Linked DNA regions of Homo sapiens. The protein of the gene in region 2 interacts with the protein of the main gene of each other region in a pairwise test. Each region holds a gene or a part of one and is shown on either strand. Other genes may lie near its edges.

Region 1 (11,427 bases), on a different chromosome or scaffold from region 2:
ACAGTGCAGCAAAGTACGGCCCTGCTTCATCTCCACGCTGTGGATATGGTCAGCAATAGGGTCAAAGAAGTCACAGAGACGTGAGTTAGGGGAGTCAGCCACAGGTACCTGCATGTACTGGATATCCTCATACAAGGTGTTCACTACCTCCACTGAGACATTGATGACCATGGTGATCTGGTTGCTAGACAGCATGAGCTTGTTGTTGGCGGCCACACCATTGCTGATATACAGGCTTTTGGTTATCTGCGAGAGGCCGCTGACTGAGGGCTGCCGGAACTGAACTGGGAAGGCACACGAGGGTGCTGTCATCAAGGCGGTGGGTCAGTGGTCAGCAGTCAGCGAAGCACGAAGGCTGCGTCTTTCTGCTAGGCTGTGTCCATGGAAAACTGCAGAGAGGGAGAGGATGTTTAGAGGGCAGGTGCCCAGAGGGCCAATTCCAGGGGATCCCTGGGAAATGGATGGATAGGCTTATAGCATTCCCCAAGGCAGTCCTCTGACCATCACAGCAGAACTACCCAGCAAACTCATTTAAAGTACAGATACCCAGGTCCCTCTCCAAACCCACAGTCAGACTCTCGGGGTGAAGAGCATGAATCTGCATTTTCAGCATGCTTCTCAGGTGGTCTAATGTGCACTGCCCTATAGGACAAATGGCAAGTCCCCAAGTCTGGCACTTGAGGCCTCCCTTGAGGGGTCCCACAGCTCTAGTTGGGCAGATGACTTGTGTCCCTCAGCTGTGCCTTGGCCTGATTCTCCATTTAAGCTCACAGAGCCCTTTTCTTGCTGCTCTTCCAAATTCTCTCCTTCCTTCCAGCCCCTCTGAGTGGGAACCATTTGTACAGTCTTCCTCCTCAGTCTTCTGACTTTATGCCCAAATCATAAGGTCCTGAGCCAGTGGCATGGAACCAGAGCCCACTGTGCTGGCAGTCACTGAGGAGGCTGGTATAAGAGTAGGGAGGGTTCCCATTTTCCCCCTCTAAGAACCATCTCTTTAAAGAGACAGGATATGCCCATGCGAAGCTGATGTCAAATACAAAGTCCTAAATTGTTAGACATGCTCCTGCACCTTGCCTCTGAAGAAGGCCTGGGAAAGGGAGTGGCTGAAAGCTTCCTGGAAGCCAGCATAATGGGCACCACAGCAACCCCAGGGACAAGCACAGAGACAGCAGGGCCTTAGGAAGACCTGCCACACCTGCATCATGCTGCCTGCAGCAGAGCTGTGAAACACACCCCAGGGAGAGGCAGACCCCTTCCCTTCACCTGCTCGATAGGCTCAGTCGCCGCTAAGTAATTGGGGTAGAGGTTCAGCCGCAGATCTGCTTCCCGCGCCGCAGACCGTGCAGTCGTCGGTGCTCCTCAGGTGCGGCCTGGGTGCCCAGAGCATTCATTAGACTCTCGGACCCTCACTTTCTCAGTCTTAAACAAAGCTGCAAAAACCAGGACATCTTTATACATTCCGCTGAAATAGGGACATTTGGATTTAGATCACACCTTTCAAGGCCAAGTGGCAGTCTTCACCAGGCACGAGAAATGAGGAGCCAAAGTTTTGTTTCCCTGCTTAATATATTTCAGTGGCTATCCACTGTGAGGATAAGATGGAGCCACTTAGTTTGGCTGTCAAGGCCATTTGTGACCTGGCTCCTGCCTGTCTCTCCAGCCTCTTATTAGGCTTCTCCATGCTCTGAAGGGCCTCAGGTGAACCGAGCCACTTACAGTTCCTTAGGGACAACCTGTCCTCTCCAGCCAGTGGCCTTTGCCCCTGCTGATCTCTCAGTCTCTTTCCTTATGAACCCATCAGATCCTGATCTGGTCCATTCAGCAGAGGACTGCAGAAGTCTGAGGAGCCTTAAGATATCAACTTAAAGGTAACTGTTTTAAGGGAAATCTCCTTAGATCACACCCCTCCCTCACGTTTGACCAACTCTGCTCCAGGCTTTCTTAGCCCTATGTTCTCTCCTTCCTAACACTTACTGAAGACGTAGTTTTGCTCCGATCTGTCTGATTATTTGATTAATGTCTGTCTCCCCAAGAGACTGTGAGCCCTTTAGGGATATGATGGTGTCTGTCTTCACTCCCACTCTATCACCAACTAGTGCCAAGCGCTGTGTCCCCACAAGTAGGTGCTTGATAAATATTTGTTGAATGAAGAAATGACTCCCAACAGCTATGACTCTGCCTTCTGAGAGGTTTTCTGGAAAGAATGAGTTCTCTGGCAGCGTGTCTCCAGAATTCCAGGGAGGGGCTGGGTGGGGATGGGGGTGGTTCTGAGGCTACTAAAGAGAAAGACCAAAGGTTGTATAGGCAAATCCTACCTGCCAATGCCCCAGACTCAAATGCATCAGGCTCATTCCCGGAAGGACAGAGAGGGCTGGCTTGCTACAGAGGTGATATGAAGGGCAAAGAAAAAGCCTCCTGAACCCAGATGGAAGTCTAAATGCTAAGGAATGTTCTGGATCCTCGTCATCAGAAAATCCATAGAGAAGTGAACTGATGTCCCCCCAAACCAGTGCCCAGTGGGTAACGGGAATAGAGGAATGTGCTGTTCATTATAGCCACTAAAAGTCTGCAGAAGTGACAATGCTCTTGCAGGTGAGGGTAGTGATGCGAGGAGTCATTTTCATGCTAGTTAAGAAATATCTATCAGGGCTGGGCACGGTGGCTTAAGCCTATAATCCCAGCACTTTGGAAGGCCGAGGCGGGCAGATCACCTGAGGTCAGGAGTTCAAGACCAGCCTGACCAACATGGTGAAACCCCCGTCTCTACTAAAAATACAAAAATTAGCCAGGCGTGGTGGCATGGGCCTGTAGTCCCAGCTACTCAGGAGGCTGAGACGGGAGAATTGCTTGAACCCGGGAGGCGGAGGCTGCAGTGAGCCAAGATCGTGCCACTGCACTCCAGCCTGGGAGACAGCGTGAGACTCCATCTCAAAAAAAAAAAAAAAAAAAAAAAAAGCAATCTCTATCAGGCACTGTATTAGGTGTTGGAGATACTGAAATGTACAAGACAGGCATGGCCCCTTTTCTCAGGGAGCTCAAAGACTAGTGGGAGAAACAGATAGTAAACAGGCAATTACAGGCAGACAGAGCTTGAAAATAGGATAACAGTACCTACCTTAAAAGGATGTTGTGAAATTAAACGAGATAATCCACGTAAAGAGTTTTCTCAGGGCTTGGCATAGAGTAAGCCCTCTCAAAATGATAACTATTTTTCTCGCTTCTGATAGGGAAGTTAAAATGCAGGGCTCTGTGAAAGGGAAGTGTAAAAAAGATTTCTTCCAGGTCGGAGCCTAGGGAGTCGCAAAGACCACCTGAAGAAATCACAAAAGATCTAAAGAACGTTTAGCTTGAGAGGGAGGAGGAGAAAAAAATAGCAACTCGGTAGCAGTTCAGCTTCACCACTTTACAGCCTATGAAGTATTTGGCTTCCCTCATCTGGTTCGATCTTCAAAGCAACCTAATCAGACCGGCGTCTAGAGTTAATATTTCCATTTTACAAAAGAGGAAAGTGAGACACAGCGCGGAAAAGGACTTGTTCAGAACGAGTCATAAAGCAAAGAAGCCGACCTTTATGGTCCATTATGTGTGGGAAAAATGAACAAACACCGCGGGGCGTTCGTGAAATACTAAGTTATAAACATGGAACAAAGTCCAAGAGTTAACGAGAGCGAAGCATCACTTCTAGGGGTGGGCCGGGTAGGTTTCCTAGGGGAGCTGGCATTGGAATAGGCTTCTTCGCCTGCTTAGTGTCAGGACCCCCAGGGTTTTACCTCTCTCCTTCAGGCGGGTGGGCGGGTTCGCTCAGGAAGTAGCCGCTTGGGGAAGCCTTAGGCAAGGTTCTTCGGGAGAGAGACCCGTCATGATCCCGCAGCCTCAATCCCCGCTGGCCTAACGCTTTGGTTTCCATAGCAATGGGCTCGTCGCAGAAAGGAATAGCCTGTGCCGGGTCTTCAGAGAAATCCTGGCCTCGGCTCCACGCCCCTGAGCAGCCCCACCCTGGCTCAACCTGTTACCCGCCCTGCCGGCAAGCCGGGGTCACTGCAGTCCCCGTGGCGAAGCAGGGTCAGCTCAGCTCACCGCACCCCACTCCATCCAGCCCTGCCCATCTCTACGGCAACGGGCCGGGTCGCACCAGGGCTGCAGCCGAGAGACAGTCTCACCGCTTCCGTAGCCGCCCGGGCTCTGTGCGCATGTGCGACACTCCCTCCCCGGCCCCGCCCCCTTATGCGTCTCCCAGGCAACGCGCCGCGCGGGGCTCCAGGTTCCGCCCAGGGACTAACTCCAGGTCTGCGCGCGTCCAACGAGCACGGCTCTCAACCGGCCTCCTGGCGCCCAACGACCATGGCTTCCAACCGGCCTCCGTGCGCCCAACGACCATGACTCCCAACCGGCCTCCAGTTTCCAACTGTTTCTCGAACAGGGAAGCCGCCATGACACAGCTGACTACGCCCTTGGTCACAGGGGACCTGAGATCCTCCACGATTTACGGGACCGGCGCCACCTCGGGCTCGAACCACCCTCTCGATAGGGCCGCCGCTAAGTAATCGGCGTAGGGGTTCAGCCGCACATCTCCTTCCCGCGCCGCGGACCGAGCAGTCGTTGGTGCTCTTCAGGTGCGGCCTGGGTGCCCAGAGCCTTCGTTAGACTCTCGGACCCGCAAGGGAGCCCGAACTCTTTCAGACTCGCTCTCCCTCAGCCGGACCTCGGCCCTTTTTCACACCCCAGGGGAGTCTGGATTTCTCATAGTCCTGGGCACCAGCCCCTTCCCAGTCTAGCTCTTGGGACTCCCTGAAGCCGGAACTCCCTCGCCTGGACTCCCGGGAGAACCTGGAATCCCCATCTCCAGTCCACATTTTCTCAGAATCTGTCCTAGCCCTTCAGTCTCCCAGGCATGACATCGTGTGGTCCCAGCGCCCTAGGTGGTGAGCTGTGACTCTCCTTAGAGCCTGGCGAGGCCGAGGTCCTCCCCAGCTCGAACCCATCCCACACTCCCCTTCTCAGCCTCTGTGTTCCCCAGTGGTCCTGGAAAAGCCCCCAGTTCCCTCTGCCTGGCCCCAATCCTCACAAACCCAATTACCCACGCTCCTTTCCATTCCATAACCCCCATCACTGCATCCTCCAGGCTCCCATCCATGGAGGACTTGAGGTGGAAAGCAATTTGGTTCAAAATAACCATTATTTATTACTTGAAAGGGAATATTTCCAGTCGTTGCCAGCCTCCTCCCCTTCTAGTATTGGTAAATTTTTTGCACCACTGAGTGGGTGAAGAGTTTTATGCGTCTTTAAATGTTTTAAGGATTTTTTTAAAAAAACAAAAAACTCTCAGGATTTGGGGGACTTTTGTGTTTGAGCATCTTGATCTCTAAACCAGCTTTTTCCATCACCTCACACCTAGGCTATGCATAGAGGTCAGAAAAATGTAAATGAGAGATTGAGAAGTTGGATTGTTCATACTAGTTTGTAAATATGAAAACATTCACAACACTCCAGTTCCAAATAGGCTGAAAATGCATTAGAAAAACTAGTCCTTCAATATTTTTTATCCTTCTACAGTTGTCTTTTTTGACCCAATTATAAAAGTAGTGTACACTTATAGAAAAATGAGGACAGGCATGGTGGCTCACGCTTGTATTCCCACCACTTCACTTTGAAACGCTGAGGCAGTTGGATCACCTGAGCTCAGGAGTTCGAGACCAGCCTGGGCAACAGGGTGAAACCCCATCTCTACCAAAAATACAAAAAATTAGCCGGGCTTGGTGGCTCACCTGTGGTCCCAGTTACTCAGGAGGCTGAGGTGGGAGGATCACTTGAGCCTGGGATGTGGAGGTTGCAGTGAGCTGAGATTGTGCCACTACTCTCCAACCTGGGGGACAGAGTGAGACCCCGTCTCGAAGAAATAAAAAGAAGACAAGACAGGCCAGCAGCATAAGTGGCTAGGGACAATCACTGTTAACATTTTGGTGTATTTTGATCAGAATCCATTCATATATATATATATATATATATATATATATGTTACAACATGCTTATACTTAAAAAAGATACATCACAAAAGTTCACTTTTTAGTAACCTGCTTTTTTCTCCCATCTAATATACCACCCGTCTATGTTTCATACACAATTACATGTATTTTATTTTATGACATACCAAAATTTATTCAATTGCTTCCATACTGTAGATTTTGTTTCCGCATTTTAGAAAGAAAATATGAACAATTTTTTTTTTGAGACAGAGTCTAGCTCTGTGGCCCAGGCCCGAGTGCAGTGGCACAGTCTTGGCTCACTGCAACCTCTGCCTCCTGGGTTCCAGTGATTCTCCTGCCTTAGCCTCCTGATTAGCTGGGATTACAGGTGCTCACCACTACACCCGGCTAATTTTTGTATTTTTAGTAGAGATGGGGTTTCACCATGTTGGCCAGGCTGGTCTCGAACTCCTGACCTCAAGTGATCTGCCCACCTTGGCCTCCCAAAGTGCTGGGATTATAGGCCTCAGCCACTGTGCCTGATCCTGAAGAATTATTTTTAAATGGGCAAAACCATTTAAAGGTATTTATTTGTAAGACTACTTCATGGTGTAACCAAATTATCAAAAAGTGAAAATGCAGTGCTTAGAAGTATATCCACTCTTCAGCATTTCCTCATTTTGACCAGATTGTTATATTTTCACCTGGAGTACCTAGCTCCATTCTACCCCACCCCACCCCATGTTTCACCTCACCTTTCAGAGTCTCCTAAAACCCCTGTCCACCCCACACCTCCCTATTCTAAATTTTCCCCAAACCTTCTTCTGGAATTCCCCTATTAACCAGCCTAACATCTGTCCAAACTCTTACTTTTATTTCTCCCTGCTCTGATCTATACTCCCCCAAGCCCCCGCCTCCCAGATCCCCTTTAGGCACAGGGTCTAGAGCAAGTGCTCCCCAAGCTAAACACCTCTCAAATTCATCCTTCGAACCCTACTCTACAACTTTTACTCCTCCCCTCTAAGACCCCTCTCTCCCATTTCATCCTTAAGAAGGATCATCAAGATGACTGCTTTTGGCTGGGTGGGCATGGTGGCTCTCACGCATGTAATCCTACCACTTTGGGAGCCCAAGGCAGGCATATCTCTTGAGGTCAGGAGTTCGAGACTAGCCTGGCCAACATGGTGAAACCCCGTCTCTACTAAAAATACAAAAATTAGCCAGGTGTGGTGGCGCATGCCTGTAATCCTAGCTGCTCGGGAGGCTGAGGCAGGAGAATCGCTTGAACCCGGGAGGTGGAGGTTGCAGTGAGCCGAGATTGTGCCACTGCATTCCAGCCTGGGAGACAGAATGAAACTCCATCTCAAAAAAACAAAAGACTGCTTTGGAAGATGGTTCTGAGTTCCTGATAACCCTTCTCTTGTGGACTGCACTGGGGCCCTTTTACAAACACAGAATTGCTTTTCTTCTGGGTGTCCATGAAACACCCCTTTAGCATATCTTTCCACAAGAAGAAACTGTGGTTACTCCCTTGCTTCTCTGAAAATTGTAACAGAGCTGCACTTGTCCTAAGATACCCGGGGAAGCCTCAGCCACTCCCCCAGGACCCTGTCAAATCTGCTCTGGCCCTGGCCTCAGCCATCTGTAACCTGTGTCACCTTTCCCTCCCCGCTCCAGCTTAATGATTCCAGTGAAGCAGCAGTGAAAAATTTTTTACTCATATAAAAAGAGCAGTTTATCTTGGGTGGGTTTTTATGACAAGCTCATAGCACAACGACTCCATGAGGTGCAGGTAAAGTAGCCACAAGCTTTTGCATTAGAGGGTGTTAGTGGCTTGACCCATATTCATTTCATTCTCTCTATATCCTGGGGGATCATAAAGGTGATAGGAAGTCCCCAAGGTGCTCTAAGGCAGGCCCCGTTTTACAGAGGAGGCAATTCACACTCAGGGTTACTGACTTGCCCAAGGTGTCACACCTGTTCCTAGGCTAAGGAGGCTAGAAAGACTCCATGTCTCTTGGTTTTGTTTTTGTTTTTGTTTTTCCTGAAAGCACATTATCTCTCTAGGGAACCCATGAATGGATTCTTATTTTCTCCCATACAAAGTCTTGGGTTCTAGGCTGGGCGCGGTGGCTCATGCCTGTAATCCCAGCACTTTGTGGGAGGCAGGACGGTCACTTGAGGTTAGGAGTTTGAAATCAGCCTAGTCAATGTGGCGAAGCCCCGTCTCTACTAAAAATACAAAACTGATCTGGGCATGGTGGTGGGTGCCTGTAATACCAGCTACATGAGAGGCTGAGACATGAGCATTGCTTGAACCGGGTGGTGAAGGTTGCAGTGAGCTGTGATAGTACTCCAGCCTGGGCAACAGAGCAAGACTCCGTCTCAAAAAAAAAAACAAAAACAAAAAAACAAACAAGCAAAAATAAATAAATAAAACCCCCAAAAAACTAAGGTCTTGGGTCCTAGAGTTTGAATCAGCATTAACAGCATCTTGTCAGTTTTTTCCTTTGGGGATTATCCCCATTTTCCAGATGAGAACTGAGGCTCTTCTCCCACTTTTTGCTTATGGACAGGTAAGAGTTTGACTCAGGCTTACTCAAAAGCCTGAGTGCTGTCACCTACTGTTCCCATAGACCCTAATTGATGAACTCATTAAACCTGTCCTTAGGGCCTGCTTGGGACAGCTACTGTGTTGGGTGCTAGGAAGAGACACATGAAAAAGATGGACACCAATAACATACTCATTTTTTCAAACAGAGCAGGAAGCCCAGGGTTGAGCTTCTGCCCCTTCTTGACTCTGTTGACTTCTCTCCATGTTCCAGGGTCAAGTCTGGATGGGCCCACAGGATTCTAACATCAAAAACAGTTGGAGATCCTTAAGAGATGGTGCCAGATCCTCTTGAAGGTCACAAAGACAAAAGCAGAGCAGAGACCTGGGCATTTCTGCCTCTGCTAAACTTCCAATGGTGGGATGTAGTGGAACTAGATGGGCAGGCCAGCTTTGTGTGACCTTGGGTGAATCACACTTCCTCCAGACTCTGCTTTCTCATTTGTAAAAATAGGATCTATTAAGATCCTCTCAGTGGCAGGTAATATAAACTGAACTTGAACTAGTTCAAGCAAAATAGAGAAGTTGGGTTTACATAATCAAGGATGGATAGGGCACAGTCGCCAATGTTTTAGGGGAGAGAAGCCAGGGGCTGTACTACCACCAGGTATGTCTTCCATTCTGTCTTCATTGTCTTTATATTGTGTCTCGTCTCGTCCCGTCCCATCCCGTCTCGTCTGTTTGAGACACGGTCTCACTCTTGCCCAGGCTGGAGGCCAGTAGCATGAGGCTCACTGTAGCTTCAACCTCTTGGGTTCAAGCAGTCCTCCCACCTCAGCCTCCCAGGTAGCTGGGATTACAGGCATATGCCACCATGCCTGGCTAATTTTTTGAATTTTTAGTAGAGATGAGGTTTCACCACATTGCCCAGGCTGGTCTCAAACTCCTGGGCTCAAGTGATCTGCCCTCCTCTGCTTCCCAAAGTGCTGGGATTACAGGCATATGCCACCGTGCCCAGCCCTTTGTGGCTTTCTGAACACCAGTATCATTATCAGGCTGGCTGAACCTGGGGAGCAGAGCCACAGGAAACCTTGGCCTGTAGACCACAAGAAGTACTTCCACTGCTGCTCCAGTTAGACAAATCCTGAGGAAGGACTCCAGTTGGCCCCAGTTGGTTCATGGGCCCATCCCTGTTTTAATCACTGTGGCCAGGTGGTGTGGGGTATTCTGAGTGGCCCACGATAGGTTCGGGGCCAACTGGGTGGGGAATGTCGTACACCTTAGGTGGGGCAAGGAACTGTGAACTACTCTTAACTGGAAGCTCCTGAGTTGGCTTTATGTATACCTGAGGGCTGTGCCAACTTTCAGCTGTCCAGAAGCTTCCTTTTACTTTTTTTTATTTTTTTATTTTTTATTTATTTTTTTTTGAGACAAAGTCTCCCTGTCACCCGGGTTGGAGTGCAGCAGCGTGATCTCAACTCACTGCAGCCTCTGCCTCCTGGGTTCAAGTGATTCTCCTGCCTCAGCCTCCCGAGTAGCTGGGACTACAGGCGTGCGCTACCACGCCTGGCTAATTTTTGTATTTTTAGTAGAGACGGAGTTTCACCATGTTGGCCAGGCTGGTCTCAAACTCCTGACCTCAAGTGATCTGCCCTCCTTGGCTTCCCGAAGTGTTGAGATTACAGGTGTGAGCCACTGCGCTGGGCCTTGGAGTTACCTAGCTTAATGCCCACTTTTTACAAATAAATAGACTCCCTGTGAGTCAAAGTATTTATGGAATGAATATAGTGTGGAGAGAGCTTTAGAGAAGAGCAATAAGGAGATCAGCCACTAATGAAGATCAGACCACCTGATAAAAACTTTATGACAGACCAGCTCAGAAAGCTGGGGCACTGGAGACGGGAATCCATGAACATCCACCAGTACTTGGATAACATTTGTGTATACCAGGAATAGTTGAAACTCCAGTCTCCCAAGAAAGACCAGCCACTCTAGTACTGGCAAAGGGATCTGCCCCAGGGCCACGATGACACTAGTGTGATCAGAGGAGAACTAGAAAATAGCCAGGCTACATGACTGTAAAACAATAGACAGAGACCAGCAGACAGCAGGGCATAACAAATCCTCAGCAATCCTCATATTCCTTCCCCATGCGTCCCCTCTATTCTGGTGAAGGAGGTCCTGATAGTCCCATGGATGCTTACCTCAAAAAGGCAGGATCAAGCTAGCTTCCATGGTTAAGGTGAAGATTGACCTCTCGGTGCCCACTTGTCTGAGGTGACATGCTAGGTGAGGTGTGCCGGGACAGTGGTACCTTAGATGGGAAGGCCCCAGTAATGCCACTGCCTGGCATTCCAGTGGTAAGGAGGTGTGGGGGAGGCATCAGAAGGACCTGGCTTAGGTGCTGTATCTACCACCAGTCAGCCGTGTGGCCTTGTCACCTCCTTGAGCCTCCGTTTCCTTATCTGAAAGAATGTTGCAGTAGTAAGGGAACCTACCTCCAAGGTCTGGCGTGAGGATATAAAGTGCTCAGCCTAGGACTCATCATTTCCAGTGACTGTCATCATGGTGGCTTCCAGTGGCCTTCCAGTGGTCCCCACTCCCCGTTCTGCCTGCTCCAGACGACACCCTGATAGTCCCCACATTGTACTTTTATTTGTGAAGACCATTTATCTGGAATGCCTCTTTAGCTCTCTCTTCATCCTTCAAGGTTTGTCTCAATGCCATTTCCTACACAGCATTTTCTTTTTTTGTTCTTTGGTTTTTTTGAGACAGAGTCTCACTCTTGCCCAGGCTGGAGTGCAGTGGTGCACTCTTGGTTCACTGTAACCTCCACCTCCCAGGTTCTAGAGATTCTCCTGACTCAGCCTCCCTAGTAGCTGGGATTACAGGCATGTGTCACCACACCTGGCT
Region 2 (9,564 bases):
CCAATCCCGGTCAGCAAATGTTATGGTACTCATTTGTGAGTAAGCAATTCATACGTGCTTAAGATTCAACTAGTCATAAATATGTCAGCAGACCTTCTCCCTCTATATGTCTATATTTTTAAGCCTTCCCAGCCTAATTTCCCAGAGGATTACATTGACCTTGAGTGCTTTGATGGTTTGTAAGACTCTCCTTTTCTTGAGCTAACAGCGTCCTATTACCATTGGCATTTACGGTAACAAACTTCAATGCAGTCATATTTTGGCTGCAAAAACCCTTTCTTGTGTGTGCTCCCTTGTTCTTTCTCCGCTAATCTGGCACTTCCTCTTTAGCATTAGAGCTATTGGCTGAAAAAAATGCGTATAAATTAAGAAGAGTATGAACTGCACCCCAGAACCTCCCTTGGATCCCTCTTTCTGTCCTTCCTCAGAGCTTTCAGCCCTTTAAAGGCAGAGGAGAGCAAAGTCCGGGCAGAAGAGCACTCATGGCCAGCCAGGGACTGATGATGGATTCCAGCTGGCCAAGGAAAACAGCAGAACAAGCCACAGGTGTCTGCATCCAGCCAGCTGGGTCAGGGCATCACAGGAAGTGCAAGGGAGGGAGGGGAGCCCCTGCAGCAGCTTCCTGCTTGATGCTTACTAGGGCTGAGCCTATCCCTCCTCCCAAAGACCAGCCTATCCTTGACCTTATCTTTGTTAAGTTGCAACATAGAAGGGATTTTTGTTTTGTTTTGTTTTGTCAATCATCAGTTCATGGGTCAAAAAAACGCGTACTAAGAGACCAACTTCTTTGAGTTTGTCCATATGAAGGAAAAAGCATTTGGCCACTATCCAAGAATTTAGGTCTCAGGTGAACTGGATGAGGAATATCTTCTTGACAAAGACTACATGTTGTCAGTTTTCTATCCAAGGGAACAACTTCAAAAAATATAGCTAATTGTCAAATGGCTAACACAAACAGCTTTTAGTGCTGAATTTTACAGTAAAACTTGATTTTCTTTAAAGGGGAATAAAGGGGCTAAAATGTTATTAAATGCTTACGTGCACATTACTAAGAATGTAATGATCGGCCTGGCGCGGTGTCTCATGCCTGTAATCCCAGCACTTTGGGAGGCTGAGGCGGGCAGATCACAAGGTCAGGAGATCGAGACCATCATGGCTAACACGGTGAAACCCCATCTCTACTAAAAATATAAAAAATTAGCCGGGCGCGGTGGTGAGTGCCTATAGTCCCAGCTACTCGGGAGGCTGAGGCAGGAGAATGGCGTGAACCCGGGAGGCTGAGCTTGCAGTGAGCTGAGATGGCGCCAGTGGACTCCAGCCTGGGTGACAGAGTGAGACTCCATCTCAAACAAACAAACAAACAAACAAAAGAATGTAATGATCACCCACCCCCGTGCCTTTAAATTAAGTCAGTTCTTGATCTTTAGAGTATATCAGAATCATGTGAGGCTTGCTAAAACACAAATTTCTGGGTCTCATCCCCAGGATTTCCTCTTTAGCATTTGAGCTATTAGCTGAAAAAAAAAAAATGCTGTCTAAATTAAGAGGATGAACTTCACCCCTAGCATCTCCCGTGGATCCCTTGATTTAGTACTTCAAAGTAGGGCTTGATAATTTGCATTTCTAACCAGTTCCAGGGTGCCGCTGTTTCTTTGCTCTGGGAACCACACTTTGAGAAGTACTGGGATAGGTAATCATCTTAGAAGATGTGTGGATAAAAGAGCTCCTCTTTATTCAGTATTGTAGTAGGCATTATGGGAAGGTGATGCTAGGAGTTTGCAGATGTTGGTGATTAGGGAATTAAGGGAATCTCAGAGTTGAAGGGATTGGGGATGGCAGGAGGGTCAAGAGCTGGGAGATAAAAGAAGGAAATGGGGGTAAAAGGCAGGCTGAGGAATTCAAGTGAGAGGGAGAAACCCAGCCTGACACGGATCTCACTGCCATGTGAAGGGATTGCTTTATTGAGTTTGATTGTTGAGGTGGTGACAAGAGCTGTACCTAAAACAGATGGATAAGGCCCTAAAGGTTTTATTGTATTCCTTTCTGTGTTAAATAGCAGATATGGACAACTTCTTTGAACTTTCATTATGGTACTCATTTTCCTTGACCATGTGTATTAATTGCCAGATGAGGAACTCTTTCTTTTGGGCAAATAAGGTCATAAAGATAAGTTGTGACAATTAAATGGCCCCATTTATTTTATCAGTATGTTTGGAAGCTAAGTTGGGCATGATAAGATGTACACAGCCTCTTCTTCTTTAGAGTCCAAAGAGGTGACTTTTGATATCTAAGATTATATGGAAATATTAAGGCAGAAAATGATGCAACTATATTCTTAAAATCAAATATTTTTTATATTCCATTGGTTGTAACTATTCAATATATTATTTTGATTTTAAAAATTCAAAGCTTGCCATATATAGGTGGATAGTATTCAGTTATGAAATCATTAGGATTCCCCTCTCCACCTATGGTTGCTAGCAAAATAATGCCCAAGTCTGTTTTAAAAGCCTACTGAAAAAAAAAAATTTAATGAAATAACAGCAAATAGGAATTGTGATTCCTCTTTCTATAAAATGTAAATGTTAAAATCCCCAAATACCTCTATGACAGCAATATTCAGGAAATAATATTTTATAGTAAACATTTTTAATAAACAGCAGCATAAAATAATCAGTGTTTAATATCATCTCTGGTGTGTGAAATACAAATGCATATATCCTTAATATAAAATAGCCTTTTTGTCATTACAATTCAATGCTTGCCTATTTGAAATGCCCATAATAACAAATCAAACATTAAGTAATACAGTGATTAAATGCATGCAGTGAAAATAAGGAAAGATATGGTAAGGTGAGATATCTGAAAATTGCCATTATATATTTGAAGAAAATCTATATCAAGTTAAAAACAAAGGAAACAAGAAAAACAGACCAGATATAAAAATGCAAAGATATATTTTCACTTCTGTGACACAAACCATAAGCATAGTTTTGTGCAAAAAAGGAGAAAAAGATCTGAAAATAAAGTCATCTTACAAAACATTGTCAACAAAGGAAAAGATATTTTTCAGCTTGTGAAAAAAATACTATTTTAATACAAAAGAGACTGTGTTATATAGTATCACAGTGCGATTATAAAATACATTATTACAAGTGGTTTTGAAATTTCATTTGCTCACTTTAATGTTTTCAGTTATTATAAAATGTTTAAAATAAATGTTATAGTTCTTTATAAAAAACTAACTTGAATTTACTTTTTAACCATAATAATGTTTTACCAGAGTAGGTATTTTACTGGCTCATGGAATGCTAATTTCCCTTTAAGGGACTCCTAGAAAAACTCAAGATTCACTGAAATTGTGTACTTAAAATAATAAATATTCTTGGAAAACAATTGATTGTCATATGATATACAAAATTGTGGTTTGAAGCTTCATCATTAAACAGTTGCATAGCAACAAAAGGATACAAATATTCTCCTCTACCTAAAGTTAAGAAATGTAACTTCTGAATCAGCTTATTTATGCCACAAAAATATGTTTTAATTTATCTCCCAGAAATCTGGATATAACCAATTCTTCTAGTTCACAGTACCTATAAGTTCATGTTTGTTATTTGAAGACTCAGGTTTGGGAAAATTGCAATGCATTTTGGTAAACATATTTTCTTGATTTCTCATGCTAGTTGTATTTTTTAAAAATGAAAACATCAATGTGTTTTTCATTCTCTTACATTCTCCTCATCAAATATCATTTCCAGGAATTACTTTTATATCCCGTAAGTCTCTTTAGAAGTCTCTTATACCTTTAAAGTAAAAATGAGACTTTGAGACATTGTTCTTAGAATAAAGGAGTTTTTTTTTAACAAGAGAAAAATCAAAAGTAAAATTACTTTCTATATAGAACTTGAAACGCATAAGAATTCTAAACTTGGCAAAAGATGGTCGGCAGGTAAATGCCATGAGCTGCACATTTGAAACCTCCCACTAAGGCAAAAATGGTCATGTTACTTCGGTTTGCTAGTTTAAAGAATTCAGTTCTTGGTAACTTTTGAAATGAGAACTCAGTACTTGTTTTTTAGGAAGACCATCATATTTTGCAAAATAGAATTAATTGCCTTTGGATTCCAACTGACTGTATGAATACATTGTTGTAATTCTTGGGGCGGGAATCAAATCTGTGAACATTTCCAGCACAGAAAAAAAGGGAAAGAAACTTTAAAATTACTAGACATTTGTATCATGATGGAGTTTCCTACTTCCCTAGAGCCCATTGACCATAAGCACTCCAATGCCTCGGACAACTTGTAAACAGGGAGTTGCAAGGGGTGGGCGTGCTCATCTGTAGCCACACACTTATTTTTCAGTGTTACTGGTTCCAGAAAACTCCTATGGGGGCTGTCCCCATGGGAACCCTTTTTCCTTTCCCACAGATGCTGATCTAGGCTGTGGGGCCATTTTCCTGGCTGTGCTTCCTTTGGCGCCTCATTCCTAATCCAGCAAAGAGAACTATCAACCAACAATCAATTCTAGCATCCACATCTAGCCTTCTTATGGTCTGATGCGCTGTGTTATTCCAAGGGCAGTGTAAACACACTGTGAGAAACTGTGGGAAAGACCCTCATGATCAGAGGAGGATTCACAAAAAGGCACACTCTACACCTTCCCAAAGAAGCACAACGACATAAAAGGCTTCAGGGCTTGTTATACTTCCCTTATGGCTCATTTCCCTCCAGGGTTTCAAATTTGGCCTGAAGTTTCTTCATGGATTCTGAACATCATTTCCATAAGAACATGCACAGAGTCTAAATTCAATCAATATAATTCCTGAACATCTGTCCTGAAGAAAAGACAGCAGGTAGACAAATGCTATGGTATATATACATCTGGGGGAGAGACCAGTCATGGTGACTGAAGGCTAAAACACAAAGCACCATTTGACTTTTGGTTTTATATTTAATCACAAGGTTCTTTTCCTCTTCACTGGTTTGCAGCTTTCAGTGCTCGAAACCACATGTTCCAATCCCAATGCCATGTCATGCACTCCAATGGAGTGCACATCCCACAATGTTTTTGTTTGCTTGTTTTTTTTTTTTTTTTTTTTTTCTGGCCGAGTGTCTGTCCTGCTTGGTAAGACACAGTGAAACTTCACAGAAGGTACTTGTTGCGATGTCTGCTAAATGAGAACCTTACTTTAATAAAAACATTTGAATATAAATCTTTTCTACGGCCGTCTAGTTTGTCCTGTATACCACATTTACAAAAGTTGTGCATTTTACAGTTCTGCAGAAATCATAGATTCGGTGTGTCCATGAATATTGGCGTCTCCTAGTAAAGATGCTTGCTTTGAGTCAATTTTGTAGGGTTTTTGAGATTTGTTGCCAAAAACGGTGATACCCATTCCACCAGGATGATTTGGAATTGACATGTGTGGTAGTAAAGGAATATTTGCTTCCTGATTGGATCCTGATGAGGGCAAGCTAGTCACATGGCCAGTGCTAGTCGACCCACTGGCACTGCTTGGGGACCGACTCTTGGGAGGTGGGCAGTGCTGAATCACTCTGGGAGGACCTGTTGGCTGGTAGTGGGCAGCTGGAAACGCTGCATATCCAGGAGGTATTGGGTATCCATTGATGGGAATGAATCGCTGGTTCTGAGGTATTGGCGGGCCAATGAAACCAGCAATCTGGCCCTGTGGTGTAATACCCTGGCTCGGGAACATGTAATTAGGATATCTGGGGTTACTGAGATTACTCACTGGGCTGGCACTGAGGGAGGTTGTCTGTGTGGTGGCATTTCCCCCTGAAGGAGTAGTAGAGCTTGTGTGACTTGAGAGTCCCTCCCAGGACCGAAGCCGGACGTGAATATCTTTAAATCTTGGTCTCCTAGAAGGAATCTCATTCCAGCACTCTGTCATGAGGCTGTACATTCTGGGTGGGCAGTCTTCAGAGCATGGTAAGAGCTGCCGTTTTCTCACCATCTCAATCACTTCCTGGTTACTGAATCCATAATATGGCTGGAGTCCAAAACTGAAAATCTCCCACAAGACAACCCCAAAGGACCAGATATCTGAATCAGAAGAGAATTTGCCATACATGATGGCTTCAGGGGGCATCCAGCGAATGGGCAGCAAGGACTTACTCTGGACCCTGTAGTAATCAGCGGAGTAAATTTCTCTGGAAAGCCCCAAGTCTGAAATCTTTACATGAAGTTGCTCTCCGATTAAAATATTGCGAGCTGCAAGGTCCTTGTGGACAAAGAAGTGACTAGACAGGTATTCCATGCCAGCTGCAATCTGAATTGCAATGTGCAGAAAATCTCCGTGGTCCAGGCTGGATTTCACAGTCCCATCTTCATCACTGCTGCAGCCAACATCAGAGTGTGGGGATCTCATGATGAGGAACTCATGGAGATCCCCCTGATTAATATACTCAAAAAGCATGCACACAGGTTGTTCCTGAGTGACGGCACCTAGAAGGCAGACAATATTGGGGTGGTGCAGTTCTGCCATTAGGGAGGCTTCTTGTTGAAATTCCGTCCATTGCTGGGGGTTGTTATAGTCTTTCAAGGTCTTGATAGCAACCAGCTGAGCATGGTCCATGCCTGGGAGATAGAGATGGCCTTTATAGATTTTTCCAAAGGCACACTCACCCAATTCTTCCATAAAGCGTACAGCAGAAAGAGGTAGCTCTTTAGCCTTGCTCTGTATGAAAGAGAGGAAAAACGTGGTTTAAAACATATCTTCAGGCAAGACAGCTTTGCATCCGAAAGGAGGGACGGGGCATATAGAAAAAGGTTCTATAAACAAATTCAATAAAATATTGTAGGTCTATATATCTTTCAAATCGTTGGCTGCAACTCAGGGGAGGTGCCATAGACAACTTTCCATCACTACCCTATCCCTTTCCCTCAACCCAGCCACAAAATGGTTTTTTGCTGTTGTCTAGAGTCTTGGTACTCAAACTGTGGTCTGGGGACCAGCAACATCAGCATCACCCAAACTTACTGCAAATGCAGACTCTTGGGCCCACCTCAGACCTACTGAATCTGCATGTGCATTTAACAAGACCCCAGTGGTTTCTGTGAAGATTAGGGTGTCAGAAGCACTACCACAGAGGCTACAGCCTGGTACTCAGAGCATTTGTAATCTGGTCCTAACTCACTTTCCTGACATGATCCCTTGCTACTTCTCTGTGTGATGGCATCACTTTAGTTAAATAGGTTTTCTCAATGTCCACTCCTGAAACCATTTACATTCTTGCCTAATACTTTTGTTCCTCCAATGTTCTGCCATTCTTCGAATATTTATTGTGCTAAAAGAGAAACCAAAACAAAAGATTGTCCTTCTGAAGTACTCACAATAGAGATGGGAAGGTCTGAAATGCGGTCTTCTCCATTGATTAAATCCTTTGTTTTCTAAAAAGCCTGTTTCAGGCCCCACTTCCCGCAAAACCTTCCCTGACCACTATGGTCATTTCTTTGCTAGACTCTTTTGCCTTTACTGTGAATGCCACCACATACACAAAGCAGTGTGGTGGCTGGTTACACAAGTGGCCTCCATAGCCAGTCTGAGTTGGAATCCTGCCTTCTCCACTTACCAGCTGTGTGACCCCAGATACAACATTTAACTTTTGCCTCAATTCCTTCATCTATAAAATGGGATGATAATAATTGTACTTACCATGTTATTGCAAACTTTTAATGAGTTAATGTTTGTAAAGCACTCAGACCTATGAGTTAAAGTTTGTAAAGCACTCAGACCTATGTCTGGCCCATGGTAAGTACTATTTAACTTTTTGTTATTATTATCAACTTGATGTTTCTGTTCTTTTTATGCATGTATTTTGTCCTCACAACGAGATTTCAAGGGAAATCTTATTGGAAGCACTGCCCTTCATACCAACGTATATCCCTAGGTCTTCGCAAGTGGGTTGTTTATTAATTGACCTTAAGACAGACAGGTGAAGGCATTAGCTCACAATGAAAATAAGTATTGAATCATGACATTTGATCTTGGCAAGTAAATGTCTATAATGTTATATGTTTTTACTATTTTAAAATGTACCTCAAATTTAGTCTGATGTTTCATTTAATTTGTTAGAAAAGAAAGTAATAAAAACAATGCATTTTACATACAACTGATTTTTCAAATAATCCCCATCCTTCAAATCCTTATTTTTTAAAAAAGAATACTACCCTGAAAATTCTAACTGAAACTGACAATGTTGAAATACATATGAAATCCAGAGCTCTCTGTACAGAGTTTAAAACAACAGTTTAGATAATTTGGTAAAAAAGTTCTCTTATCCAAACTCTACTAATTTAGAATTCATGATGATTAGATTTGTTCTAGGCTGATATTTTCCAGGGCAAAATGCCCACTAACCTAATTGTAAGTGTAAATAAACTTGCAGCAAAATACTCACTTAAAAGGACAAATTGGGATTGGGGATTTTGGAACATTAATTATTCTATGCAAATAAACTGTCTCATTATAAATTGGTCTTATTTGTTCATCAAAGCAGATTTTGTGAGGTTTATATTTGGAAATGAGTTTTAGAAAGTTTACTTGTGCTGAAAGTAATGGTAATTTGTTGCTTTAAACTTTCAGTAAATTAAATCTTATTGATCTAGTTCTATTCAATATAGTATTGTTTGTAATAGCAAAATATTATCAATGACCTCCATGTCCCTATAGAGAATATATTAAATCAATTACAGTGGAGCTAGTAAATAGAATATTCCACATTTGAAAAAAAAGAATGAGGACGTTTCGTATGTACTGGTATGGGAAGGTCTGCAAAATCCTTTGCTCAGCTAAAAATAAAAAGCAACAGAACAGTTAATGCTGGATGCTGCTTTTGTGTAAGAGAGAAGGAGAAAAAGAACACATGAAACATATTTCTTTGTATAAGAATAAAGAAACTACGAAAGGATACTTGGGAAATAGATAGCAGTGATTATTGGGGGTATGGAAGTAGAAACTAGAAAAAGGGGGGCAGAGGTTCTGCTTTTCTATGCTTTAAAATTTTTCAACCAGGTGAATATATTAAATTAAATAACTATTTAATTTATTAAATTACTATTTTTTTAAATTAAATAACTATTTTTTTAAAAAAAAAAAAACAATAGGCGAATCTTCCCATCTTACTGAACTAGGAAATATCTTTTGCAATTGTAAGTCCATCCACCATTTTTCCTTTTGCTTTTAGGGTCTGTATTCTTGTGGGAGCTTGTAGAATTCCTTTGAGAGAGCAAGGTGTGGGTGATGAGAAAGGTAACCAGTTGAGCCAACCCTACTTTTTTTGTCTTGTAGCACTCAGATGATTTTACTTTTGCTGGCAAGAGTAACTCAAGGTGAATTTTTCCTGCATGACATTAAGATTGGAGATTTCCATGAGAACTTTTCCTAATGATGTAAATAAATCCAGTTTAGGTGAAGGTCCCTTGAATGGCAAAGTAGACATCACTTACTTTTTGACAAAAATAAGATCTCTACGCTTTTGGAGACAGAGAACTTTAAGGGACTGAGTACTAAAACTTCTTTGTGGAAAATGGGAATTA
Region 3 (11,554 bases), on a different chromosome or scaffold from region 2:
CCCCCTCCCTAGAATACTGTATTCAACACATCACCAAGCTTTTACATTTTTTGGCTGAATGTGGGTACTGGGTATCCAAAAGAAAAGTTCAAAAATTTCATACCCAGGACTTATCATAACTCCAAATTCTGTCAGCACGAAAGCAAGGTGTTCAACAAATCCCATTTCCTAAAACAAAAAGGGACTTACTTTCCTTCTTCGGATTAGTGGGATATTTCCAAATATGGATAGCAAATTTTGCCATTGTTGCTATATCCCTTTATGAACACACAAAAGAAAATCTTGACCAACTCCTCACTCCCACCCCAGATCTTTATCATGCTTTCTCTCACCTAAAACGTGTGTTATTACAGGCCCCCACTTTAGGCCTTCCAAACCCCCTAAGACCTTTTAATCTGTATTTACACAGTTCTCATAATCAGGCCCTTGGTCTATTAGCCCAACTCATGGCAAACTCCCTCCAACCAGTGGTATATTTTCAAAACAACTAGACCCCATTTATAAAACCTGGCCCCCTTGCTTAAACATTTTGGTCACAACAGCAGCAATAATTATTCCTGAGGCACAAAATCTCATGTTTTATGAACCTCTTCAGGTATTTTCTTCTCACAGTCTACAAGATATGCTCAGCCACAAGGTGCTCACCTCCAGCTCATCCTCTCGCAGGCAAGCCCTACTTTCAACTCTCCTTCAACCCTCTATATCTCTTCATAGATGCTCCCTGACTAACCCCGCCACTCTTTACCTTCAACACCAATTTTAGACCCCGACCAACACTCATGCTCTGATCTAACTGGAAGTTCTCTATGTATCACCGCCTTACTTGCACTCACATAAAAGGAGACCCAGATTGGTTTATAGATGGGAGCACATCAAAACACTCTCCCCTCTAAGCAGGATATGCCATCATTGAAAGGATATCATGATGATACCCACTCTCTCCCACCTAGAAAGCCATAGAGGCTGCCCCCTTGCCTTTGGGCACATCCTCCCAACAAGCAGAATTAGTTGCCCTAATAAGAGCACTAACTCTAGCAGAAAACACACAAGTGAATATATACACTGATTCTAAATATGCCTGTAACGTTATCCATTCCAATGCCCAAATTTTGAGTGAGCAGGGCTATCTCATAGCTAAGGGAACCCCTATCATTAATGGAAAACTCATCCATCATCTATTAAAGGCAGCTATACTTCCAGAAAAGGTTGTGGTTATCCATTGCAAAGGACATCAATCAGACAAAAGCCACATTCCTTTAGGGAACCATGAGGCTGACTATTGGGCCAAACACGCCTCAGCCAACGACCCAATTCCCCAATACTTATTTCCCCTCACACAACATATGCCCTCCTTTTATCCAGAACACCAAACACAACAACCAATCACAGTAGGGGCAGACAATTTAAACCCCCATACTGGTTCATACAAAACAAATTAGTCCTACTTGACCCTGAAAAAACAATTTCTTCTATGGGACATTCACAACCTCTTCCACACTAGCCATTCCCCTCTACAGCATTTCTTAAGTTCCCATATATACATAACCCCAGACATAAAGGAACAGTTAAAAGCCATTTCCCATCAATGCTCTGTTTGCAAAAAAGCTTCACCCCACTTCAACACTAGACCCTCTTCTTTTCTAACCCATCAATCCAAGGGACACCTTCCAGAACAGGACTGGCAAATTGGTTTTACCCACATGCCCCCAGTAAAAAGGGTTTGATTTCTTTTAGTTCTGGTTGATACCTTTTTGGTACGGGTCGAGGCCTTTCCCACAACCAACAAACGAGCTCCTACTCTCCAAATTAATAACAGAAATCATCCCCAGGTTCGGGGTGCCTCTTTCTTTTCAATCTGATAATGGCCCTGAATTCATTTCTCAAATTATTCAAACACTTGCACAAGCCCTACAAATCACCTGGAAGTTGCACCTCCCCTCTCGACCTCAATCTTCAGGAAAGGTTGAAGAAATGAATGGCATTCTACAAAAACACCCTCACCAGGTACTCACACCAAACACATAAAGACTGGGTTACACTTTTGCCTTTAGCCCTTCTAAAAATTCGGGTGCTCCAATGTAAACTTCTAACGCTCAGCACCTTTGAACTCATGTATGGGAGACCATTTGCCCCTCTGCTCCACCTCAGGGTCAAGCCCCACCTCCACCAATCCCTCTCATTTCCCCTCTTGTACATACCATCTGCCATTTCATTTAGGAATATGCTGACAAATACCTGCCACAACCCATCACCGACTCCTTTAATCCCTCCCTACAGCCAGGAGACTGGGTTCTGGTAAAATACCCCAGTCCTACCCTCAATTCCTGCTTCACACCTAAGTGGAAGGGACCTTACCAGATCATCCTTACCACACCCACAGCACCGAAACTCCAGGGACTCCCCAGCTGGTTTCATTGTACTTCTCTCAAGAAAACAGACTTCCCTTCACCACATACCCAAACAACCAAGTCTGAAACCCCTTCGGCCTTCTCTCGTGTCTCCCAGGACCCACTTCTCTTCGCCTCACCCAAATCCCTGAGGAAAAGGAGGAGAAATCCACATAAGCCGCTTATGTCTCTTTCTCTCCCAAACTTTCATCACTTCCTAACTAACCTTGTTACAGACCTTCAGTGGTGCCCTTAGGAAGCTCCCATTATACATCCTGATCAGCTCGTTACTGCTCTATGGGACCTATGGCTTCAAGGAACTTTCCAGGACTTTACTCCTACCCAAATAACTTTTTTCGCTTTTTGCTTGTTTCTTTCAATATAAATTCCCTAATCACATCAACCTCATCAATACAACCACTCCTCACTGCTCTCAAACTAGAACGCTCTATAAACCTTACACAATCTCTCTTGCGGCAAGCTAACTCTTCCTTTGCTCTGGAATGCTGGGTGTGTTTATCGCTGTCTTCCTTAGCTTACACAGCCCTTCCTACATTCCTTCATGACCTTTTAACAGGAAACACAACCCTAATTTATAAACTCCAAAAAGGAGCTTCCTTTTTTGAAAGAGCTGACACTCTAGTCGGTGATTATCCCACTTCCAGGGCCGATCAGGCCAACAAATTATTTCAAACCTAGGATAACTCCCTACAGCGCCTTAAGCCCCACGGCCCTCCCATTGAAGGGCCCATAACTAAACACACTCCTCCTCTTATAATGAGCCTCACTTTGCTTTTCAGCCTCGGAGGGAAATTTCCCTGTAGGGTCCTTAACATCTAACCTATGCAACCACACTATCATTGTTAAACACCCCTCTGACCATCAAACTAACCAGGCTAACTACCAAGTATCACCTGAAGCGAACGGAGCATTTCTGCAGCTGGCTCGTTTGACAGCCTTTCCCTCAGCCAATGCCTCCAGCCTAACCTGTGCTGCTCCTAGTGCCCACAATTTTCCTTGGCTCAATATCAATAGTGCAGCATCCGACCGCATTAAATCTGTAAAAAATAACTCTTCCTATACCTCTAGTATAGTAGGTGTCTCCCAGGCCTCCTCCTTGTCCACCTGGAGTAATGAACCACAGGAAAGAACAAACACCTCATCTTTAATTCACTTATTTTCTGTCCATATCTCTGCTTGTATTTACAATAAAGGCTTGTTCTTTTTGTGTGGTCTCAACACATATTTCTTTGTCTCCCCATCAACCAGACCAGAACCTGTACCCTAGTTTATCTTTCTCCCTCCATTGGACTAGTTCCTCCTAATCAATCTTTACCCGTTCCATCCATCCAATATGTTAGGAAGAGGAGAGCCATCCACGTCATTCCTTTAATGGCTGCCTTAGGTATAACCTCCGGGCTTGGGTTGGGAGCAGGCTGATTCGCCACCTGCTTAACATACTTGAAATCTCTTTCAACAGAACTGCAGAGTTCATTAGAGCATATGGCCCAAAGCCTTATAAGAGTCCAAGGCCAACTAGACTCCTTGGCTGGAGTAGACTCCTTGGCTGGAGTAGTCCTCCAAAATAGACAGGAATTAGATGTTATAACAACTGAAAGAGGGGACCTCTGCCTCTCATTCGGTAAAAAATGTTGCTTCTATCTCAATCAGTTGGGCCTAGTAAGAGACGCTGCTAAAAAACTTAAAGAAAGGGCTAAAAAGCTAAGAGAATAACAAGACAACCAAATAAATTACTGGTTTAAAAACAAAGTCCTAATATGGGTCATCCCATTCCTGGGCTCTCTCCTAAAAATATGCCTAGGAATAATGTTCTTACCCTGCTTAATTAACCTTTTTCTAAGTTTTTTTTATTTTTTTGAGACGGAGTCTTGCTCAGTCGCCCAGGCTGGAGTGCAGTGGCGAGATCTCGGCTCACTGCAAGCTCCGCCTCCTGGGTTCACACCATTCTCCTGCCTCAGCCTCCCAAGTAGCTGGGACTACAGGCACCCGCCACCATGCCTGGCTATTTTTTTTTTTTTTTTGTATTTTTAGTAGAGACGGGGTTTCACCATGTTAGCCAGGATGGTCTCGATCTCCTGACCTCGTGACCCACCCGCCTTGGCCTCCCAAAGTGCTGGGATTACACGCGTGAGCCACCGCGCCTGGCCACCTTTTTCAAAGATTTTTAACCAGCAGGATCATGGCCATCTCACAGACAATTACCCAAAAACATCTACAGACAGCGTTACTCCTACAATCAATCTGAAACCAAAGAACTCTCTGCTCACTCCCCCAGCAGGAAGTAGCCAGAAAAAATGCGCTGCCCCTTGTCCTTTTCATAACTATAGAGACTGGATTGATAGAGCAGGAGCATTGCCATCTTGGACAAACACCACCTTTCTAAGTTCCCCTTGATTAAAAAACCACCTAAATCCTACCCCAAAACATCAGCCTAACGGCTAATGTCAGCATAACCAGAAATATTCCAACCCTAAGATAAACCTCTCTTCAACCAGAAACATGCTAACCCTGAAATAACCTCTCCTCCAATAGCCTCCCCTCCGACCAGAGACATTCCAACCCTGCAATAAACGTTCCCCCACTTCCAAAACCCTTAAATATCCTTAGTCTGTAAGAGAGAATGCTTAGTCTGTAAGAGAGAGCGCTCCTGATCGAAATTGGCCAGAATCCCCTCTCAGGTTTATTCTCTGAAATAAACCTTTTAATGTTGAGCCGCTTTTTGTATTTATTTCCTCTTTCTTTAACGGTTACAAGCATTGTTACTTGAGTGTTTCTGCTGTAATGGAGGAGGCAGCATGAATATCTCAAACGGTTGCTAGTGAGAAGCCACGCAGATGAGAGGCATGAAGCCTTGTTGGGCTCCCTCCATGTCCTACAGCCAGAGAGCGTCAGAAATACATCTGCCCCAGAATGAACTGGGCTGAAAACTCTTTGCATGGAGGGAGACCACATAACCTGGGGAACTTGGGTAAACGATGTTGGAACGGAGGTGTAAGATTTGGGTTTGTGTTAGTTGATTTGGGGAAACATTTATGGAAACGGGCCTTTGCTCCGGATTGGATGTCAGGAAGAGGAGGATTCCATGATTGGATATCTTGATGAAGCTTATCTAGACGGCAGGAGGACGAGACAAAGGCTAAACATGTAATGGTAAAGAAGCAGCAATCACTCTTATTGGCCAAGACGAGGGGAATGTGGTCACTTTTGTGGCTTGGACAGTGTTCCTGTTTTGTCTGTGTTCACACTTGATTACACAGTGGTCTGTTTTTTTCTCTTGATCTGTATCACGGCCTGATGTTGGTGTTTTATGAAATTGTTCACATTCAAAGAGAACACCCAGGCCTAGCTGTTTGTGCCAGACCAACCCCAAGTCCTGGCTGCAGAACCAGGCCAGCTCCCCGATGTCAGTGGCCGCCTTTCTCTTTACAGGCATGGAGGGGGACACCATTAAGGAGGAGCCCCTCTTCTCCGCTCCCCACAGACACCAGTGGGTGCAGACAAGTCAGGGAATGCCTCCTTTCCCTCCGGCATCTTTTGAGGTTTCCGTCCTGACGCCCAGGGCCGCTCCATCCAAGCCTCGGTTTCTCAGTCTCTAAAACAGGCCAGAAACCAGGCACGCCGTGGTGAAAGGACGAGCCGAAGAGATGGCAAGAGCTCCAGAAAGCCTTCCCAGGCATCAGGGGCTGCCCTTGAGCTCAGACGTTTCTCTCTGGACAGGGCTTCTTGGACAGGAACTCAACGAAACTTGACAGAAATCGGACACCCCCAGCCAAGGAAAAGCAGGAGGGGCCCGGGGTTCGCCAAGGCGGGAAACACCGCGGGGCCCAGACGGCGCCGTCCGCCCGGCTCGCAGTCGGGGCGCGGGAGGGGCCCACGCGCATGCGCACCGCCCCGCCCCCAGCCGCCCCGCCCAGCCCGCGCGCAGCCCTCTGGGGCGGCCGGGCCACGCCGCGCGCCGATTGGTGGCGTCCGGGACTCTCCCTGCAGGTGACTGACGGCGCCGGCCGCCCCTGCCCGTCGCCCGCCCGCTGCTGCCGCCCGCCCGGGGTGTGGAGCCCGGCCGCTGCTCGCGGGCTGAGTGTCTGTCGCTGCTGCCGCCTCCACCCAGCCTCCGCCATGGACCTCTTCGGGGACCTGCCGGAGCCCGAGCGCTCGCCGCGCCCGGCTGCCGGTAAGCGGCGTTGCCGCCGGGCCGGCCAGGGAAGGGAGAGCAGGCGGGATGGGGGCGGCCTGAGGCCCGGGGCGGCTGAGGCGGCGCCCGCGCTGGGAGGCGGCGGGCGGCGCGGGCTGCACGGGGCCTGCTCCTGCCTGGCCAGGCCCCGTCCGGCCCACTGGCGGCCCTGTCGGAGGCCCGGTCGCTCGCGGAGCTCGGAGAGGCCGCTCCGCCATTTTCGCTACGCAGGAAGGAAAGGGCCGAGCCGTCGTGGCCACGGCCCCTCTGCGTGGCGGTGAAAGGCGCCGGCGCGACCGCGTGGGCCGACCCGAGGGACCGGCTCTGAACGCCCGGCGGCACCGCGGGCCCCCGCGCCCCGATTCCACCCGCGGCCTGGGCTGCCTTGCGCGTCGCCCGCCCGCGGCTTCCGGGCCGCACTTCACCCGCGGGCTGTGGAACGGCCGCGTTCCGGGCCGGTGCAAGTTCAGGGGCTTGGCGTTTTTATTTGCACTGGAGATTGAATTAATCACCATCTTAATCCTTCGTGTTTTTGAAGCCTGGAAGACAGGATGCCTCCTCTGTCATCCTGTGATTTTGTGATAATTAACAGTAGTTTTTTTTTTTTTTTTCTGGTCCACGGGAAGTTCCCCCTCTCCTTGAAGTTAAGGGGTCCGCTCATCTCCTAAGCGCTGGCCCCTGCCAGTGGGAGTCCCTGTGGGCTGTGGTTTGAGCTCAGCATCCTAGCAGCTTGAAACAGGGCCTGTGTTAATCCCTGCGTCCTGTGGGTTACAGTCTCCGGGTTTCATCTGTCAAAACGCGTGAATATTTCATATGCAAGACTTCCAGCTTGATGTTGTAGTTTAGGGCCTTATTACAAAATTTAACTTGGGGGCAGAAAACCTGGAAAACTTAAGACGTTCAGATTTCCAGGCCCACCTCAGCCCCAGTAAATCCGAATCCCTGAGAGTGGGGTTTCCGAATCTGTTACTAAATCCCCAGGCCAACCCAGCGGGGGCTGGAGACCAGTGGTTTGGGAGCTGCTGTTGTAGGGTAGACGGAGGTGAGTAAGGCCCAGCCTTCGCTTTCTAAGAGCTGCTTTCTGAAGGGTACTAATTACGGTAATTAAAACTGGCAAAAGTTAATGACTGTGGGAAATGCTGAGGACTCTTGAGGAGGGATTGTCGGGCACCGAGAGACTGGGGAAGGAGGCAGTGTTTGAATTGAGCTTCCAAGGATGTTCAGGCTTGTGATTTGCAGTAATTCTGGGCGAGAAAACATTTTATTTTATTTTACTTTTTGAGACGGAGTCTCACTCTTGTCGCCCAGGCTGGAGTGCAATGGTGAGATCTGAGCTCACTGCAACCTCCGGGTTCAAACAATTCTCCTGCCTAGGCCTCCCTACTAGCTGAGATTACAGGCGCCGACCACCACACCCGGCTAATTTTTATATTTTTAGTAGAGACGGGGTTTCACCATGTTGGGTAGGGTGGTCTTGAACTCCTGACCTCAGGTGATCCGCCCGCCTCGGCCTCCCAAATTGCTGGGATTACAGGTGTGAGCCACCGTGCCCTGCCCCCACTGACCGTTCTGATGGTACAGAGCATCTCAGTAACTGGTCCTGGAGTCTTTGAACTTGACTCAGCCATTCATTTTCAAAATAACCACGGTTTTAGCTGTGGGTAAAAATTGGATTTGTGTAGCAGTCTTTTTTCTCTTGTCAATGGAGTATAATTTCTATCTGAATATATTTGGGACAGCATTTGGATTCACCAGTGTGCGTGTAAACCTATGAGTCTTAAAATCTCCATTGCTTTTTACCTGCAATTAATTAGGTTCTGCTCAGGAGCAGGCTCCCTTGACTGACAAAAAACCTGGCAACTCAGAATCTCATAGGTTGGCACCTTAGCAGCCTTTTGCCAGATACAGTGGGAAAGGTACATCCTGTTGCCGTTTTTTCCAAACTCAGTTTCCAACCTTGACTGAGCTGAAAGGGTGGCAGAGGGGGTGCATGGTGTTTAAACTGCTGACCACCCTGAGATTGGATTGGTCAGCTGCTCCCCATCTGCCAGGAGGGCACTGACATTGTCAACAGGTCCTGCTTGGCTGAGTGTATTTTTAAAAATAGCTTTAAAACGAAGAAGATCTCAGAATTTGTAGATGATTGGAAGCTGAGAGGGATAAGTACTAAAATGAGTGACAATTGGGATCCATAGTTATCATTGCAGGCTGTTAGCTACAACCAACAAGATGAGATTTGACAGGTTAAAATCGTTTGTACAAGAACAGAATCTGGTTTCACATACTTGTGAAAATACTGTGATTTAAAAAAAAAAAACATACTTTGAATAAATCATATTGATTGCTAAAGTGAATGGAATAATGAGTCTAAACTGTGCATCATGACCCTCACACATGATATGTGGGTACCACAAATCTCTAATGCAGTGAACAATAAAAGACCTCGTTATTTTCCCAGAGCGCAAGAAAAGTTGTTCAGAAAGTGTAACCAGACTACTTGGTTTAGAATCCAGCTCTTCGCTTACTAACTGTGCCTTCTGTGGCTATTCCTACATGTGTAAAAAGGGGTGACACTTGCCACTGTTACTGTACAAATTAGTACAGTATGTATGGTGCTGCACATAGTGTGGGGTAGAATGTATAGTGTTTTATAGATGTTAGCCAGGGTTATTATTTTTGAGACAGCCTCATTGTGTCGCCCAGGCTGGAGTGCAGTGACATAAACACAGCTCACTGCAGTCTCGACCTCCGTGGGCACAGGTGATTCTTCCACCTCAGCCTCCTTGGTAGCTGGGACTACAGGTGCGCACCACCACAGCCAGCTAATTTTTGTATGTTTTGTAGAGACAAGGCTTTGCCATGTTGCCCAGGCTGCTCTCGAACTCCTGGGGCTCAAGTGTTCTGCCCACCTTGGCCCTCCCAGAGTGCTGGGATTACAGTGGTAAGCCACTGTGCCTGGCTGAGCCATTAACAGTTGTTTAAAAGTGGAAAAACGCAGTCTTAAATGAATTATGGGAAAGCACTGAGTGTCCAAAGGGAGAATACTACACTGCTTATATCACATCAAATGTATTAATATTTTGTTTAGATCTTTTTATTTTTGTTTTAAACGTTGCATCTAATGTTCCCACCCCTAAACCTCTTAAATGTTTATAATCTAGAAAAATACATAGAATGCACTAAATATTTCAGGTATTTTGCTAAATTAGTAGTTTTCATCCAAGCCCTTAAAAGTTTTAATTGCTGAATGAATCAAGTTTTTTAAAGGAGAGATGTATATATTTTACCTAAAAAAAAGTGTTTGTTCATATCAGGCAGAAATGGAACTTTCCTATGTCATACCCATAAAAGTGCCGACCTGATGTCTTTAAGATTGGCAGCTTATATTGACAATCCATGTATGTCAGTTGAAGGTGTCATGGTTTAAAATTGCTTCGCCAGTAACTTGATTTCACTTTTATAGGGTGGTTCTTTTACTTATTTGGTTGCTACACTAGTACTTTAAAAATTGATGGTCAGTTGTTGAGGAGGAAATAAAATATTTGATGGCCACACCATCTTAAAAATACTTTAAAAAAATTGGAGGCTGGGCTCGATGGCGCATACTTGTAATCCCAGCGCTTTGGGGGAACAAGGCAGGAGGATGGCTTGAGGCCAGGAATTTGAGAAGAGCCTGGCACAACTTCGTGAGACCCCTGTCTCTACGATTAAAAAAAAAAAAGAAGAATATTTGAACATAAAGGTTAAGGTATTAGAGGAAAACAGATTGTAAAACTACAGGGTTGAACAAGAAAAAAGTCATAAAAAAGTGAATTTGACTATGTAAAAATTTAAAATTTCTGCAGGACAAATGATACTATAAAGGCAAAAGACAAACCGAGAAAATAATTGCAATATACATTACTAAGGGTATAAGAAAGGCTCACAGAATTGATGGGAAAAAATAAAACCCACTAGAAAAATGGTCAAAGGATGTATCCTCCCAGTTCAGAGGTAAGGAATACAAATGGCCCATCAACAGAAAGTTGCTGAGGAACTATTTACCTTTTCACCCATCAGATTAGCAACAGTTGGTAACATTGGTGAATGTGTAGCGAAGTAGACTTTCTCATAAAGTGTTTTGGGAGTGAAAATTACAACTTTTTGGGGAACAGATTTTGGCTTCTATCAGATTTAAACTAATATCCTTTGACGAGCAGTCTAGCAGATTAAGCAGGAATACATGTATCAGATTGTTGATTGTGGCGTCACTTATCATATGAAGAACTGGGAAAAGCTTGAACCCATCAGTAAGGATCTGGTCGAATGAGTGGAGATGCTTCCCATGTGTGGCTGTTGGAGAGGATGAATTAGACTTGGGTGTGTTGGCCTGGAGCATGCCTTGATGGGTTATGTGAACACTATATGTGGAGTATTGTGTAGAGTATGACTCTGTCTTCTACAAATTAAAATGCATGAGTCCATGTGCATGAGCATTAAGGAAAGTGGAAAGGATACACTAAACTCATACTGTGGTTGGGGGGTGTGGCGGAACCTGTCCCCCCTTTTTTCTGATAATACCTCTGTGGTGTTTGGAAAACACCTGGATTTATTTTATAGTTGAAAAAATTGAGGTATAAAAAACAATTTAGCCAAAATATTTTAACATCCTTTTTTAACTTTATTGGATACAGCAACCTTTAACCTGAATATGATCAACCCAAGGGTATTTTTCTCAGCATAGTATATAACTTCCAGTAGACTTAGCTCCAGAATGTAGATAACTGAGGAAAAAAAAAAGTTCTAGATGAGATTAACTATGATTAATGGACATTTTTAGTCTTGTATTCTTATTAGGGTTCTAATATTTTTAAGATTAGGGGAGGGGCCTCTTCCAGATTTTTAGGTCAGGGTCACACTTTGTCCAATGATTGCAGCCCCCAATGCTTTGAATTTCAGTTTATTCAAAATAGAATGTAAGGGCCTGGAGCAGTGG

What was found.
Region 1: the proteins of ROR1 (region 2) and DUSP18 interact in a two-hybrid assay, tested with the Homo sapiens proteins (one study listed by BioGRID and IntAct).
Region 3: the proteins of ROR1 (region 2) and ILKAP interact in a two-hybrid assay, tested with the Homo sapiens proteins (one study listed by BioGRID and IntAct).

What each region holds. Positions count from the first base shown.
Region 1 is NC_000022.11:30,663,692-30,675,118, forward strand, and holds the start of DUSP18 (dual specificity protein phosphatase 18), read right to left. Parts: upstream 4,185-11,427; 5' UTR 3,771-4,184; intron 3,248-3,770; exon of another isoform or gene 3,116-3,247; intron 1,869-3,115; exon of another isoform or gene 1,867-1,868; coding exon of another isoform or gene 1,802-1,866; intron 1,431-1,801; exon of another isoform or gene 1,264-1,430; intron 390-1,263; 5' UTR 313-389; coding exon 1-312. UniProt on the Homo sapiens protein: Can dephosphorylate single and diphosphorylated synthetic MAPK peptides, with preference for the phosphotyrosine and diphosphorylated forms over phosphothreonine. In vitro, dephosphorylates p-nitrophenyl phosphate (pNPP).
Region 2 is NC_000001.11:64,174,567-64,184,130, reverse strand, and holds the end of ROR1 (inactive tyrosine-protein kinase transmembrane receptor ROR1 isoform 1 precursor), read right to left. Parts: intron 6,704-9,564; coding exon 5,276-6,703; 3' UTR 2,633-5,275; downstream 1-2,632. UniProt on the Homo sapiens protein: Has very low kinase activity in vitro and is unlikely to function as a tyrosine kinase in vivo. Receptor for ligand WNT5A which activate downstream NFkB signaling pathway and may result in the inhibition of WNT3A-mediated signaling.
Region 3 is NC_000002.12:238,198,524-238,210,077, reverse strand, and holds the start of ILKAP (integrin-linked kinase-associated serine/threonine phosphatase 2C), read left to right. Parts: upstream 1-6,382; 5' UTR 6,383-6,524; coding exon 6,525-6,579; intron 6,580-11,554. UniProt on the Homo sapiens protein: Protein phosphatase that may play a role in regulation of cell cycle progression via dephosphorylation of its substrates whose appropriate phosphorylation states might be crucial for cell proliferation.